Linked DNA regions of Homo sapiens: region 1 is linked to region 2. Evidence: fine-mapped expression QTL. Tissue or cell type: whole blood. Region 2 holds a variant in brackets; the other region holds the start of a gene. All regions are shown on one strand. Distances are from middle to middle.

What was found. PIP is the estimated chance that this variant, and not a neighbour inherited with it, causes the effect.
Region 1: it holds the start of CAMSAP3, and the variant in region 2 is fine-mapped to the expression of CAMSAP3 in whole blood (GTEx, PIP 0.99).

The regions. Positions count from the first base shown.
Region 1 is chr19:7,592,150-7,600,282 of GRCh38, forward strand. It overlaps CAMSAP3 (calmodulin regulated spectrin associated protein family member 3), which reads left to right and starts at 3,714. Exons shown (of 17, transcript NM_020902.2): 1 at 3,714-4,001. The coding sequence starts at 3,854. RefSeq lists silencers at 1,150-1,350, 3,414-3,853 and an enhancer at 4,693-5,298.
Region 2 is chr19:7,639,564-7,647,563 of GRCh38, forward strand. STXBP2 (syntaxin binding protein 2) reads left to right here. Exons shown (of 19, transcript NM_006949.4): 4 at 168-244; 5 at 1,168-1,246; 6 at 1,337-1,440; 7 at 2,142-2,290; 8 at 2,471-2,555; 9 at 2,640-2,770; 10 at 2,866-2,973; 11 at 3,203-3,260; 12 at 3,420-3,485; 13 at 3,602-3,682; 14 at 5,051-5,189; 15 at 5,634-5,743; 16 at 6,686-6,781; 17 at 7,599-7,684; 1 more. Among named protein-coding and RNA genes, the nearest start is that of STXBP2, 6.5 kb to the left of the region's middle. RefSeq lists a silencer at 4,501-4,550. The variant C/T (reference allele first, on the strand shown) is at 3,609.

The sequences.
Region 1 (8,133 bases), 47 kb before region 2:
TTTGTGTGCATGAAGCTGACATTTACATTTGTGTGAATTTGTGAATATTTGTGTGAGTCTGTGAGCACTTATTCCTGTTCACAAGGTGACAAGGTGCCTATGTATGTGTGTGTGTGTGTGTGTGTTCTGAAAGTAACACACGTTTTTCTTTTCTTTTTTTTTTTTTTTTGAGACAGAGTCTGGCTCTGTCACCCAGGCTGGAGTGCAGTGGCAAGATCTCAGCTCACTTCAACCTCTGCCTCCTGGGTTCAAGCGCTTCTCCTGCCTCAGCCTCCCAAGTAGCTGGGATTACAGGCATGTGCCACCATGCCTGGCTAATTTTTGTATTTTTAGTAGAGACAGGGTTTCACCATGTTGGTCAGGCTGGTCTTGAACTCCTGACTTCAAGTGATCCACCTGCCTCGGCCTCCCAAAGTGCTGGGATTACAGGCTTCAGCCACCGTGCCTGGCCGAAAGTAACACACTTTTCTTTCCAGGCCTGTAAAGAACGAACTCACACAAACACTTGTGCATTCACAATTATATACAGCTAAGAGGCATGCAGGGGATATTTTGACAAAAATACAATGGAGGGCCAAGCACAGTGGCACATGCCTGTAATCCCAGCACTTTGGGAGGCCGAGGTGGGAGGATCCCTTGAGCCTAGGAGTTTGAGATCAGCCTGGGCAATATAAGGAGATCCCATCTCTACACAAAACAAAAAATTAGCCAGGGATGGTGGCTGCAGTGAGCCATGATTGTGCCACTGCACTCAAGCCTGGGGTGACAGAGTGAGATCCTGTCCAAAAAAAAAATAAAACAACAACAACAAAACAAACAATAGAACAAAAGCAAATATTAAAATATTAAAAACATCCGGCTGGGCGCGGTGGCTCATGCCTGTAATCCCAGCACTTTGGGAGGCCGAGGCGGGTGGATCACCTGAGGTCAGGAGATCAAGACCATCCTGACTAACACAATGAAACCCCGTCTCTACTAAAAATACAAAATATTAGCTGGGCATGGTGGCCGGCGCCTGTAGTTCCAGCTACTGGGGAGGCTAAGGCAGGAGAATGGCGCGAACCCGGGAGGCGGAGCTTGCAGTGAGCTAAGATTGCACCACTGCACTCCAGCCTGGGTGACAGAGCGAGACTCGGTCTCAAAAAAAAAAAAAAAAACAAACAGAAAAAAAAAAACCAAAAATCCACAAATCGGTGCTTAGACCTTACAAATAAACACACAATTGCACTCATGTACACAAATATTTGTACTCAACGCGTTCACACACACTTCCATACTTACAGACACAATCAGATTCATACACAGAAATACATTTGCTTACACAGATATGAATTCCTAGATAAATATGCACATTTGAACTCTCACAAAAGCATTCAGACACAGGCATTCTTTTTTTTTTTTTTAATGTGACGGAGTCTCACTCTGTCGCCCATGCTGGAGTACAGTGGTGCAATCCTAGCTTGCTGCAACCTCTGCCTCCTGGGTTCAAGCGATTCTCCTGCCTCAGCCTCCCAAGTAGCTGCAATTATAGGTGTGGGCAACCACGCCCGGCTAACTTTTGTATTTTTAGTAGAGATGGGGTTTCACCATGTTGGCCAGGCTGGTTTTGAACTCCTGACCTCAGGTGATCCACCCGCCTCAGCCTCCCAAAGCACTGGGATTACAGGCATGAGCCACTGCACCCAGCAGAAACAGGCATTCTTGCACAGGTATACCTGCTTTCATGCCTACACAATCTGTCACAGGCACCCACCATATATTCAAATCCACAAAGATACTCACATATAAACACACATATATGCACAAAAATATAGTCAGGAACTGCTCATCATAAATCACACATCTGCTGGGCGCGGTGCCTCAAGCCTGTAATCCCAGCACTTCAGGAGGCCGAGTTGGGCGGATCACGAGGTCAGGAGATCGAGACCATCCTGGCTAACATGGTGAAACCCGGTCTCTACTTAAAAAAAAATACAAAAAACCAGCCGGGCGTGGTGGCGGGTGCCTGTAGTCCCAGCTACTCGGGAGGCTGAGGCAGGAGAATGGCATGAACCCAGGAGGCAGAGCTTGCAGTGAGCCAAGATCGCACCACTGCACTCCAGCCTGAGCGATAGAGCGAGACTCCGTCTCAAAAAATCAATCAATCAATCAATCACACATCCATGTGCATATAGCCAGATTCACATACTCAAATACAAACCCACTTAGACACACAGCCTCACCTCCACACAGAGCCTTCTCCCAGCACACACTGCAGATACCAGAATAATACACAAAGACACTTGCAAATACACCCAGTACAGCTACGCAAGGACACTCATAGACACAAATAGTCACACTCTTGCAGAAATATACACACTTTTTTTTTTTTTTTGAGACAGGGTCTCACTCTGTTGGCCAAGCTGGAGTGCAGTGGCACTATCTCAGCTTCTGCCTCCCTGGTTCAAGCGATTCTCCCGCCTCAGCCTCCCGAGTACTTGGGATTACAGGCATGCACCATTATGCCCGGCTAATTTTTAAAAATTTTATTTTTAGTAGAGACGGGGTTTTGCTATGTTGGCCAGGCTACTCTTGAACTCCTGGCCTCAAGTGATCTGCCCGCCTTGGCCTCCCAAAGTGCTGGGATTACACTCGTGGCCACCGCTCTCGGCCTGAAATACACACACTCTCAATGTCTCTCCATACTCCTGCATTGACAGAGGCATCAATAACAGCCTCATACAACACACCAGTACGTTCAGATGCACAGAGATAGACATACTCACAGCACTCCAAAAACACACACACAGCCGGGCACGGTGGCTGCCGCCTGTAATCCCAGCACTTTGGGAGGCTGAGGCGGGTGATCACCTGAGGTCAGGAGTTTGAGACTAGCCTGGCTAACATGGTGAAACCCCAACTCTACTAAAAATACAAAAATTAGCCGGGAGTGGTGGCGCAACCCCGTAATCCCAGCTACTCGGGAGGCTGAGGCAGGAGAATCGCTTGAGCCTGGGAGGCGGAGGTTGCAGTGAGTCGAGATCGCGCCACTGCACTCCAGCCTGGGAGACAGAGTGAGTGAGACCCTGTCTCAAAAACAAAAACAAAAACAAAAACAAAAAACAGACACACACTCATCACTTCCATCCATCCTCAGGATACAGACATCTATATAATACATATCCTTGTACACACAACAAATTAAACACACACTTACACGTGCCCAGATACATACCCCACACACACACACCCCTAGACACCCCCCAATACACTTGGTCACCACCCAAATGTATTCAGAGATACACAGATACGAAGACACTCATATTCTTGTGCCTTCACTAACATAATCAGAAACAGGTGCACCCAACCACTCTCTGCCTGAGGGCCGGCGTTTATTGCAAGCACTTGCAGGAGCTCCTACGCCTAAGGGTAGACACTGGGGCTGGCACACACAGAGGGTCCCTAATCCTTTCCAGTAAGCTAGGCGCGCGCGCACACACTCACACACGCGCGCGCGCACACATACACACTCAGTCCTCCGCAAGCTCCCTCCACCATCGCCGCAGTCCAGGCCGCCCCCCTCCGCCCCGCCCCTGCTGCTCCGTGCACACTGCAGTGAGGGGCCCGGGCGGGGCGCAGGGGCGCGCCAGGGTCCGGGTCCGGGTTCGGGGGCGGGGCGCACCTGGGCTCCTCCCCGGGGCGGGCCCGACGCAGCGTCGCCAGCGCAAGCGGCCGCACCTGGCTCAGCAGCGGCGGCGGCGGCGGCGGCGGCAGCGGCGGTAGCAGCAGCGGGCCCGGCTGGGGCGCGAGCGCGGCGCAGCCCAGCCCAGCCCAGTCCGAGCGCGGACCCGGCGCCCGCAGCCCCGGCGCCGCCATGGTGGAGGCGGCGCCCCCCGGGCCCGGGCCGCTGCGGAGGACCTTTCTAGTGCCCGAGATCAAGTCGCTGGACCAGTACGATTTCTCGCGGGCCAAGGCGGCGGCCAGCCTGGCGTGGGTGCTGCGGGCCGCGTTCGGGGGCGCAGGTACCGGGGCTCGGGGGACCGGGGTCGGGGGCGGCGGGCCGGGCGCGGCAGGTGCTGGGGGGGGGCGGGGCGCCGGGCCGGGAAGGCAGGGGGCCGTGGGAACAATAGCGCCGGCCGCCGGGGGTCCCCGGGCTCGGGCCCCTGCCGCGCCGGGGCCTCCGAGCTTCCTGCTCGGCCCGGGCGGTGGACTTTGCCCCGCCGGCTGCGGGAGCGCGGTGGGGGTGGGGCCCGCGGCCCAGCTCCGCGCGGGGGTCCCCGGCGTCCAAGCCTCCAGGTGAGCCGGGCGGGGTCTGCGGGCCGGGTGGGGTCTCCCCGTGCGGACCTCTCGTTCCCGCCTCCCGCACCCCCAAGGCCTTCCCTTGCACGCCTTCTTCTCTTTTACACACATCACGCCCCTGCGAGGATCTCCTCTCGGTCTCTTCCCCCGCCACACACCCTGGAGACCCAGACCCCGACCTCGCTGGGGGGTCTCGAGCGCTCCGGTCTCCACCACCGCACGACCCCCAGGCCCCAACACACACCCCGCGTCGGCCCTGGCCGCGCTGCGGGCGGCGACCGGGGAGCTCTGGGAACCCCCTTTCGCCTCCATAGCCCCCTCCAGCGCCTGGCAGCTGCGACTTATGGCCCCATTTTACTGGGGAGGTTGGCGAGCCCAGCTGAAGGGAAATGGGTAGTACAAGATCGCCTGGGGTGGGCCCCCCGCTCCTCCCGGCTGCGGGGCCTTCTCCCATTAGAGCAGATCCTTCACTCCCTCCCCCAGGCCCGCTTGCCTGAGAGCCCGAGCCACCCTAATGGGGAGGATGCCGTAATCCCGGGTCCCCGGGATTAGAGGCCCTGGAAACACTCAGTCTCGGCTTTGGGCAGCTTCACAACCCCAGGCCAGAGCTAGGAGTCAGGGCCTGGCCAGAGAAGACAGGGGTTAATTAAGGTCTGGGCTTTCCAGCGGGGAGCTGTGGGGGTACATCCTTTTCTCCCACTGGTTCTGCCCACTGGTGTTGGCACAGCCCATCCCCCCTCTCCCTGGCCTTCCCAGATCAACCTGTTCTGGGTGTGGGTCTCAGTGACAGCTGTCCGTCTCCTGGTTCCGCCCCAGCCTGTCCCTCTTTCTCCCAGACAGTCTCTGTCTGCGTCGTTCCATGCATGCATTTCCCACTCTGGGGTCTACCTCCCTGCAGATATTTGCTTGAGGAAGAAAGAGATTGGGCATTGGACAGCCAGGACAGCCCCAGCTCCTCACTTCCAAGGTTACCAGGCTGTAGAGAACTCAACGTGGAGTGTCAGAATTGAATGTGAAGTCCAGCTGCACCAGAATGCGAATTATCCCAATTATCTGAGCTTCTGTTTCCCCTTCTATAAAAGAAGGCGTTCATTCACAGACTTATCTGTTTTGCGAATGTTTGTGGGGCAGGGGCACTTGCTATGTGTAGGGCACTGCTCCAGTGATGGAGACCCCCCGTTACCTCTTTGCAAGGTTGCTGGGAGGCGTAAAAGCTGTAGTGACCACAGAATTCTTCGCGTGGCACGGGGCGCGTGATACATGCGAAACGGTTGCTCGCTGCTGGTGTGATTGGCGGTGGTATATTTTGATGAATAATATTAACGTTATCCATTATCCCCTGGCCAGGAATCAGAGTAGAAATTATCCCATTTTGAAGACAGCAAAGCAAACTTCTGATGAGGGGTGTTGGTGAGCTCCCAGTGCCCTGACTCACCCAGTTCTGTTCTTGTTGACCCAGCTCCCTCTGCTGTGTGACACACGGCAGTGGCTGCCTCTACCGTGAGGGTCAAGTTCAATCTGTTCCCTGTTCCACTCCCCTAAAAAGAGGAGAAGGGCTGAAGGAAATGGGAGCAGAGTTCTACAAGATTCATGAGCTCTGGGGACTCTTGACGGTATGATACCTATCAGGTGCTGGGCTGGGCGCTCAGGGTGTAGAGGAGACGGCAGGGGATGGATATGGGGCAGAGGGGGATGGGCAGGAAACCAGATCATAGGGAAGCTGGCCAGCGGGGCCTGGGGAAAGAAATTCTTGAAATCTTCCAGGGAGGGAAGAGATCCCACAGGTGGAAAGATTTGAGTCTGGAAGGATGCATGGAAGTTTGACACGGAGAAGAGATGTGTGGGCAGTGGGCAAAGGCTCGGAGTGTGGACCAGCAGGGAGTTCTCAGAGAATAAGATGCAGGTCCCCGGGGTGGCGGTGGGAGATAAGGGAGGCTGGTCAGACTGAGGAAGGCCCTTCAGGCCCCTGGTTATGGATCCAAGGGTACTGGGGAGCCACGGACAGTGTTGGGAACTGACAAGATCAGGTATGCAGTGGCCCCGTGGGAGTAGTGATGGCTCAGAGGAAGGGATAGTTCTGGCAACTCCAAGGCACAGGTGTGAGAAGGCTGTGCAGAAATAAAAGCAGAACACAAGCTTGGAGATTAGATAAGAAAGGGTTCCAAGCCTGGCCAACACGATGAATCCCCGTCTCTACTAAAAATCCAAAAATTAGCCGGGAATGATGGCACACGTCTGTAGTCCCAGCTACTTGGGAGGCTGAGGCAGGAGAATTGTTGAACCTGTGAGGCGGAGGTTGCAGTGAGCCGAGATTGCACCACTGCACTCCAGCCTGGGTGAAAGAGAGAGACTCTGTCTCAAAAAACAAAGGGTTCCATGTTAAACACATTTGGAAAACACCCCATGCAGTTCTTTATGCCTTCAGAACAGATGTGTGATGTGTGAGGGAAACTCAAGTTCATGTTGGACATTTTTATCCTGGACAAGTTATCTCAGCTCTCCAGGCCTTGGTTTTCTCATCTGTACAAGGGGTATAATAATAAGTGTCGTAAGGATTAAATGACTGGATGCAGGGAAGGTCATGGTATAAATAAATGGTTGGGTGTGGTGGCATGGGCTTGTAGTCCCAGCTACTCAGGAGGCTGAGGCAGGAGGATTGCCTGAGCCCAGGAGTTCCAGGGTACAGTCAGCTATGATCACGCCACTGCACTCCAGCCTGGGCAACAGAGTGAGATCCTGTCTCAATCAGCCTTCCATCCATCCATCCACCCATCCATCTACCCACTCATCCATCCATCCACCCACCCATTCATTCATCCATCCATCCACCCACCCACCTACCCACTGCACTCATCCATCCACCCACCCACCCCACTCATCCATCCACCCACCCCACTCATCCATCCACCCACGCACTCATCCATCCACCCATCCATCCACCCACTCATCCATCCATCCACCCATCCATCCACCCATTCATTCATCCATCCATCCATCCACCCACCTACCCACTGCACTCATCCATCCACCCACCCACCCACCCACCCCACTCATCCATCCACCCACGCACTCATCCATCCACCCATCCATCCACCCACTCATCCATCCTTCCACCCACCCATTCATTCATCCATCCATCCATCCATCCATCCATCCATCCACCCACCCACCTACTCACCGCACTCATCCATCCACCCACCCCACTCATCCATCCACCCACCCACCCACCCCACTCATCCATCCACCCACCCCACTCATCCATCCACCCACGCACTCATCCACCCACACACTCATCCATCCACCCACCCCACTCATCCATCCAACCACGCACTCATCCATCCACCCACTCATCCACCCGCCCATCCATCCACCCGCCCATCCATCCACCCACCCACCCACCCATCCACCCACCCACCTACCCACCCACACACTCTCCCACCCACCCATCCACCTATCCACCCATCCATCCACCCACCCATCCACCCATCCATCCATCCACCCACCCACCAACTCATCCACCTACCCACCCACCCACTCATCCACCCACCCACCCATCCACCCATCCATCCACCCGCCCACTCATCCATCCACCCGCCCACTCATCCATCCACCCGCCCACTCATCCATCCACCCGCCCATCCATCCATCCACCCACCCATCCATCCACCTACCCACACTCCCACCCAGCCATCCACCCACCCACCCTCCCACCCATCCACCCACCCACCCTCCCACCCATCCACCCACCCACCCATCTACCCATCCGTCCGTCCATCCACCCACCCACCCATCTATCCTTCCACCCACCCACCCACCCACTCATCCATCCACCCATCCACCCACCCACTCATCCAT
Region 2 (8,000 bases):
ACCCTGTCGTGTGGCTCTTAGCTGGTGGTCCCTAAGTGGGTTTCTCCTGCAGTCCCTCCTAAGCATCCACCCCTCCTCCCCAAGCCTCCAACCCCCCACACCTGAGACTCCCCACGTGGCCCTGCCTGGATGCCACCCACCTGTGTCCCTTCCTCTGTTCCTACTAGTTGTTGAAGACATCAACAAACGGCGGGAACCCATTCCCAGTCTGGAGGCCATTTATTTGCTGAGCCCCACGGAGAAGGTGCCTACATGAGTGAGCGTGTGTGTATGCGCGTGCATGCGTGTACATGTGCATGTGTGTGTATGTCTGCATGCATGTGATTGCATGTGTGCATGTGTATACGTGTGCATGTGTCCATGTGTATGTGTGTGCATGTGTGTGCATGTGTGTGTGCATCTGTGTATGCATGTGTGTGCGTGTTTGCATGTGTGTCTATGTATGTGTCTGTGTGCATGTGCATGTGTGTGCGTCTGTGTGTGCATTTGTGTGTATGTGTGTATGCGTGTGTGTCTGTGGGTCTGTGTGTGCATTTGTGTCTGTGCATGTGTGTATGCGTGTGTATGTATGTGTGTGTGCATCTGTGTGCATCTGTATGTGTGTGTGTGCGTCTGTCTGTGTGCATGTGTGTATGCGTGTGTATGTATGTGTCTGCGTCTGTGTGTGCGTCTGTGTGTATCTGTGTGTGCATGTGTGTATGCGTGTATATGTATGTGCATCTGTGTGCATGTGTCTATGTATGTGTGTGCATCTGTGTGTGCGTGTGTATGCGTGTGTGTATGCGTCTGTGCATGTGTGTATGCGTGTGTGTGCGCATCAGTGTCTGCATGTGTGTATATGTGTGTATGTATGTGTGCGCGCGCATCTGTGTGTGTGCATGTGTGTATGTATGTGTGTGCATCTCTGTGTGTGCATGTGTGTATGTGTGTGTGCATCTGTGTGTGTGTGCATGTGTGCATGCGTGTGTATGTGTGTGTGCGTGCGTGCATCTGTGTGTGTGCGCGTGTGCCCATGTGGGTGCGACACTAGTGTGCATTTGCACATATACATGTCCCCGTCCGTCCATGTTTGCACATGGTGGCAGATGGGGGGTGGCTGGGAGGCCTAGGCAGCCAATGAGCCTAGGTGTGCAGGCTCAGGCCCAGAGAGTGATCCACCTTCCCCAGTCGGTTCAGGCCCTGATCAAAGACTTCCAGGGGACCCCGACTTTCACCTACAAAGCGGCCCATATCTTCTTCACCGACAGTGAGTGAGGAGAGCCTAGGGTGTTGGTGGGTGGGGCAAGGAGGTGTGGGGGCTGCTCTGGCCTGATGCCCCACTCCTGCCTCACCCCAGCCTGCCCCGAGCCCCTGTTCAGTGAGCTAGGCCGCTCTCGTCTGGCAAAGGTGGTGAAGACGTTGAAGGAGATTCACCTTGCCTTCCTCCCCTACGAGGCCCAGGTACGGCCCGGGCTCATCCTGGGCAGGGGGTGGGGGTTTGTGACCAAATGTCCCCTGTTCCCTCAGAAACAGACACTGAGGCTGGGCGCAGTGGCTCATACCTGTAATCCCAGCGCTGTGGGAGGCCAGGGCAGGAGGATCACTTGGGGCCAGGAGTTTGAGACCAGCCTGGGTACAGAGCAAGACCCCGTCTCTTAAAAAAAGAAAAAGAAAGAAATTAGCTTGGCGTGGTGGCGTGCACCTGTAGTCCTAGCTACTCATGGGGCTGGGGTGGGAGAGTCGCTTGAGCCCGGGAGGTCGAGGCTGCAGTGAGCTATGATTGCACTGCTGCCCTCCAGCCTGGGCGACAGAGCGAGATCCTGTCTCAAAAACATACATAAAGTAAAATTTTAAAAAGGGGAGGTACCCACAGAGTCCAAGGAGCTCTTGCCTTGAGTTCTATCCCACTAGGCCCTTGCAGGGGGCAGCGTAGAGCGCACCGCGGGGTTGTCCAGCCAGCTTAAGGGACACGGGCTGGGGTATTTATCCACTGACTCCTGCAGGCATGGGTTTAGGGTTGACCTGGGCCTGCCTCCAATTCGGCAAAGCAGGCTTCAGGGACCAGGGACGGCTCCCAGGAGGTGCAGGTGGCGGCAGCGGGAAGCGGGGCAGGTGTGCACCTGCAGCGGCAACCCTGGTGCTTCTGTCCCCTCCTCGCCCAGGTGTTCTCCCTCGATGCTCCCCACAGCACCTACAACCTCTACTGCCCCTTCCGGGCAGAGGAGCGCACGCGGCAGCTCGAGGTGCTGGCCCAGCAGATTGCCACGCTGTGCGCCACCCTGCAGGAGTACCCGGCCATCCGCTACCGCAAGTGGGGACCCCACCCAGCCCCACCCCGATGCCGACCCCCCCTTAACCGCGTGCAACACCTAACCTTTAACCTCTCTTGTGACCCCAGCCCCGGCCCTACCCTGGCCCCTGACTCTCACCTTCAAACCCATCCTTGACCCCATCCCCTGATGATGTCCCCCGTGTCTGACCTCCCCGCCAGGGGCCCAGAGGACACAGCCCAGTTGGCCCACGCCGTCCTGGCCAAGCTGAACGCCTTCAAGGCAGACACTCCCAGTCTGGGCGAGGTGAGGGGGCGTGCTTGGGAGGTGAGGGGCAGCCCCAACCGGCTCAGGGTCAGTGCCTCATTCCTGCCCTAAACCCCACCCCAGGGCCCAGAGAAAACCCGCTCCCAGCTGCTGATAATGGACCGGGCAGCTGACCCCGTGTCCCCACTACTGCATGAGCTCACGTTCCAGGCCATGGCGTATGATCTGCTGGACATAGAGCAGGACACATACAGGTCTGCAGACTTGGAACCCGTCCCCACCCTTGCCACTGACCTGGTTCCCCAGTCCTCAGCTCCCCTGACCCCCAGGCTCCCTCCTTCCTCCCCAGGTATGAGACCACCGGGCTGAGCGAGGCGCGGGAGAAGGCCGTCTTGCTGGACGAGGACGATGACTTGTGGGTGGAGCTTCGCCACATGCATATCGCAGATGTGTCCAAGTGCGTGCACACGGGGACCGGATCCCCCCCCCACCGCCCACTGTGGGCCTGGTAGCGGCCTTGGGATCCCTGGCTGCTGCCAAGTCTTTGGCCCTCATGAGCACCCCTCGTGTGACTCCAGACTGGCCTCCAATTTCACCCCACCTCTCCCTGTCCCCCCTGAGTGGGCTCACCCATGGCCTGTGGCTCCTCTCCCCTCACTCTCACCCCCGCCCACCCTCATGGCCAGGAAGGTCACGGAGCTCCTGAGGACCTTCTGTGAGAGCAAGAGGCTGACCACGGACAAGGTAGGGGCGGACCCAGGTCACCAAAGGCGCTGGTGGAAGGAAGCCCCCCTCCCCATGGGCGCAGGGCCACAGCCTGGATTTCGAGCCTGGACTGAGACCCAGGTGGGCACTGCCTGGCTTCGCCCCCCAATCCCTACCCTCTTCCCCCTACTTCCCCAGGCGAACATCAAAGACCTATCCCAGATCCTGAAAAAGATGCCGCAGTACCAGAAGGAGCTGAATAAGGTGTGCTCGGGTGGGCAGGGAGCGGGGACACCTCGGCCCCTCAACCCCATGCTCTGTCTGCGTTCTGCCTTGACTCAGCCTTTGTTATCCCCCAACCCCCACCCTGCACCCTGCAGTATTCTA[C/T]GCACCTGCATCTAGCAGATGATTGTATGAAGCACTTCAAGGGCTCGGTGGAGAAGCTGTGTAGTGTGGAGCAGGTGGGGCAGGGCTTGCGGGGGGCAGGGGTGATGGTCCTGCCAAGGCGGGGTATTGGGGAGGGGCTGAACTGTAGAGATGGGGGGTTCTGGGGGAGGGGCAGGGCTTGTGGAGAGGTGGAGGGGCCTTGGAGAGAGGTGGGACCTGGTGGGGAAGGAGTGGGTCTTGTGGAGAAACGGTCCTAGGATGAGGGTGTGGCCTGTGCATAGGTGGATGGGGCTTGGAGAGGTCAGACTTGGGTGAGGGGCAGAGCCTTGGACAGGTGGTCCCAGGACAGGAATGTGGCCTATTCATAGGTGGGTGGGACCTTGGAGAGGTAGGCAGGGCCTTGGAGAGGTGCGACCTGGGAGAGGAATGGAGCCTTGGAGAGGTGGGACCTGGGTGAGGGGCAGAGCCTTGGAGAGGTGGGACCTGGGAGAGGAATGGAGCCTTGGAGAGGTGGGCCCTGGGAGAGGGGCGGAGCCTTGGAGAGGTGGGACCTGGGTGAGGGGCGGAGCCTTGGAGAGGTGGGACCTGGGTGAGGGGTGGAACCTTGGAGAGGTGGGACCTGGATGAGGGGTGGAACCTTGGAGGGGTGGGACCTGGGAGAGGGGTGGAGCCTTAAGAGAGGTGGGACCTGGGAGAGGGGCGGAGCCTTGGAGAGGTGGGACCTGAGTGAGGGGTGGGGCCTTGGAGAGGTAGGAGCTGGGAGACAGGTAGAGCCATGGAGAGGTGGGATCTGGGTGAGGCACGGGGCCTTGGAGAGGTGGGACCTGGGTGAGGGGTGGAACCTCGGAGAGGTGGGACCTGGGTGAGGGGTGGAGCCTTGGAGAGGTGGGACCTGGGTGAGGGGTGGAGCCTTGGAGAGCTGGGACCTGGGTGAGGGGTGGAGCCTTGGAGAGGTGGGACTTGGGTGAGGGGTGGAGCCTTGGAGAGGTGGGACCTGGGTGAGGGGTGGAGCCTCGGAGAGGTGGGACCTGGGTGAGGTGTGGAACCTCGGAGAGGTGGGACCTGGGTGAGGGGTGGAACCTCGGAGAGGTGGGACCTGGGTGAGGGGTGGAGCCTCGGAGAGCTGGGACCTGGGTGAGGGGTGGAGCCTTGGAGAGCTGGGACCTGGGTGAGGGGTGGAGCCTTGGAGAGGTAGTCTCAGGATAGTGGTGTGACCTGTGTGTAGGTGGGTGGGGCACTGGAAAGGTGGGACCTGGGTGAGGAGCAGGGCCTGTGGAGAGACTGTCCCTGGACAGGGGTGGGACCTTGAGAGACCTGGTGCTGAGATGAGGTAGGACCCAAATGTCCTCTTGCCGAGGATCCTGGGGATGTCCTTGGCCCGCCTCTCCCATCCCCTTCCCTGACACATAGCGGCCGGTGGACGGCTGACCCCATGCCCGCAGGACCTGGCCATGGGCTCCGACGCAGAGGGGGAGAAGATCAAGGACTCCATGAAGCTGATCGTTCCGGTGCTGCTGGACGCGGCGGTGCCCGCCTACGACAAGATCCGGGTCCTGCTGCTCTACATCCTCCTTCGGAATGGTGGGTGGGGGCTGCAGGGAGTTGGAACGTCCCCATTTGCCAGCGTCTCCCACGATCCTGGGAACTGCTGAACCCCACAGCTCTCCTTGGGTCATTTGCACTCACCGGGCTCACCAACCCCCACAGCTACCCCTCTGGACCCGGGAACCCTCCTCCATTGGCTTGGGGATTCCTCCACTGAGGTGAGGGCTCCCTGCTAACGTAGAAACCCTCACATCTGTGATTCCTATAGATGTGGGGCTCCCTCAGCTCATCTGGAGGAGCCCCTGATCTACCCCCTCCAGGTTTCCCACTCTTGCTCACACTAGCACAGGGTACTGAGGCCCTCCCCACTGCAAGGTTCTCTCATCAGAGTCCTGGGAGCTCCTCAGCCCACCCCAAACTCCCCTAAACCTGGGAGCTCACCTGGCCGCCGCCTCCACCCTGCCCATTCCCGTCCCCCAGGTGTGAGTGAGGAGAACCTGGCCAAGCTGATCCAGCATGCCAATGTACAGGCGCACAGCAGCCTCATCCGTAACCTGGAGCAGCTGGGAGGCACTGTCACCAACCCCGGGGTACGCCAGGAGCGGGCATGGGGGGACCCTGGGAGAGGGTGCGGATCACAGCCGGGGCTCTGCAAGGCAGAGGGCCATTGGTGCACAGGCACGGTGTGGTTCCTGGCGTGGTGTGGTTGCTGGGAGGCCAAAAGCAGTGTTTCGGGTCTGGTCTGGGGCCCAGAGGACACTGGGGCCTCTCCCAGTCCCAGCTTACACAATAGGCAGGGGAAGTGAGACATGGTCGCTGCCAGGCTGGTCCTGGCAGTGGTGCAGTTGGGAGCGGGTGGTCTGAGTGCTAGAGGCAGGGAGTAGGGTCCCCAGCATGGGGGCTACACCACATTGTCTATCTGGGCTCCCAGGGGTCTCTGAGGGTCCCCCGCACCCATCCAGCACCCACACACAGCCATGTGTGTGCTTGACTCTTGGGTCAGCCTCTCCTGTCTCTCTCTGGCCCTGTGCGTCCCCCTCCAGGGTGCCCTCACCCCGTCCCCATCTCTCCCCCATCCCTCATCCATCTCGCTGTGCACTGTTTCTCCATATCTCTCTCTCTCACCCTTCTCTCTGCCTTCCCCTTTCTCTCTGTTCTCTGTCTTGCTCCCCTCCCCTCTCCGTCCCCCTTCTGTCCCCATCTTCCTCTCTCTGTTTCCTGCTTCATCTCTTGTCTCTCTCTTTGCCTTCATACTTTGTCTCACTGCTTCTTATCTCTTTGCCTATCTCTGCCTCTGTCTTTGTCTTTCTCTGGCTCGCTCTCTCTCCCTTTGGCTTTCTCTCTCCGTCTCTCTCTGGCTCACTGTTTCTCTCTCTCGCTTTCTTGCTGTCTCTCGCTCTCTCTCGCTCTCTGTTCCACTTCCCCATCTTTGCCTGCCATCCCCCACCCTACCAGCCACACCAGGCGCAGCCCCTCTGTGACCAGCCTCCTTCCCCTCAATCCCCCTGCTGCCCTCCCTGCCCTGCCTGTAGGGCTCGGGGACCTCCAGCCGGCTGGAGCCGAGAGAACGCATGGAGCCCACCTATCAGCTGTCCCGCTGGACCCCGGTCATCAAGGATGTAATGGAGGTACTGGGTGGCAGGTCAGGGTGGGGGCCAGCCCTCCGCATCGGCTGGCGGCTCAGCCTCCCTCCTGCTGAGGTGCTAAGCCTCAGGGCTTAGGGGAAAATGCTCATTGCTGGCATTCCCTTGGCACCGATCTGCTCTGCTGAGGGGGGCACGCCAAGCCCGCAGCTGAGGAATTGGGGTGACAGCGGGGCCTGTGCTGGGGAGCCTCACTTCCTCCCCACCTGCCGGCTGCCTCCGCTATATCTCTCTAGTCTGTTCCCCTGTCCCGCAGGAGTGCCCCTGAGCCCCAGCCCTGGCCTTCCCAGGATCCCAGGGCAGCACCATCCAATGGCAATGGGCCTGGGGCGGCTTCCTGGCTTCCTCCTTGTCCCTCTAAGAGCCCCGGCCCCTCTTTCTGCGTGGGGGCCAGAGACCTGGGCCTCCTCATCCCCATGGACCTTGAATACCTGGACTTCTGGGGCTCTGAGGGGCTGAGAGCCCAGACACTGGGTTCCCCAAAGGGCTGGGGGTATTGACTGATGGTCCCCAAGGGCCTGGAGGCCCAGACTACTGGGTTGCCGAGGAACTGTGGGTTTAGACTTCTGGGTACCCAAGGAGTTATGGAATTAGATTCGTGGGTCCCCAGTGAGTTATGGATCTAGATTTCTAGGTCCCCAATGGACTAGAGGCCTAGACTCCTGGGTCCCCCAGAGGCAGGAGGTGGAGATGCTGGTTCCTGTCTGCCAGGATCTTGGCCCCTGAATACCCCGTGGGGGGCACTCCTGACCCCGGACCCCATGCCTGGGGTTCCTCCCCTAACCTGCCTCTCGGCCGCCAGGACGCCGTGGAGGACCGGCTGGACAGGAACCTGTGGCCCTTCGTATCCGACCCCGCCCCCACGGCCAGCTCCCAGGCCGCTGTCAGGTGAGGCCCCGGGGCCGCCCCCGCCCACGCCTGGGTCTGTGTTAGGTGGGCGGCCTGGCGGCGGTGAGGGCCTCCTGCCTGGACTTTCTGCCCCTGCCCTGCACAGTGCCCGCTTCGGTCACTGGCACAAGAACAAGGCTGGCATAGAAGCCCGGGCGGGCCCCCGGCTCATCGTGTATGTCATGGGCGGTGTGGCCATGTCAGAGATGAGGGCCGCCTACGAGGTGACCAGGGCCACCGAGGGCAAGTGGGAGGTGCTCATTGGTAAGTCACCAGGACTGGGACCCTGGGGTCTGGGGCTTGGGTTCCCGGGGCC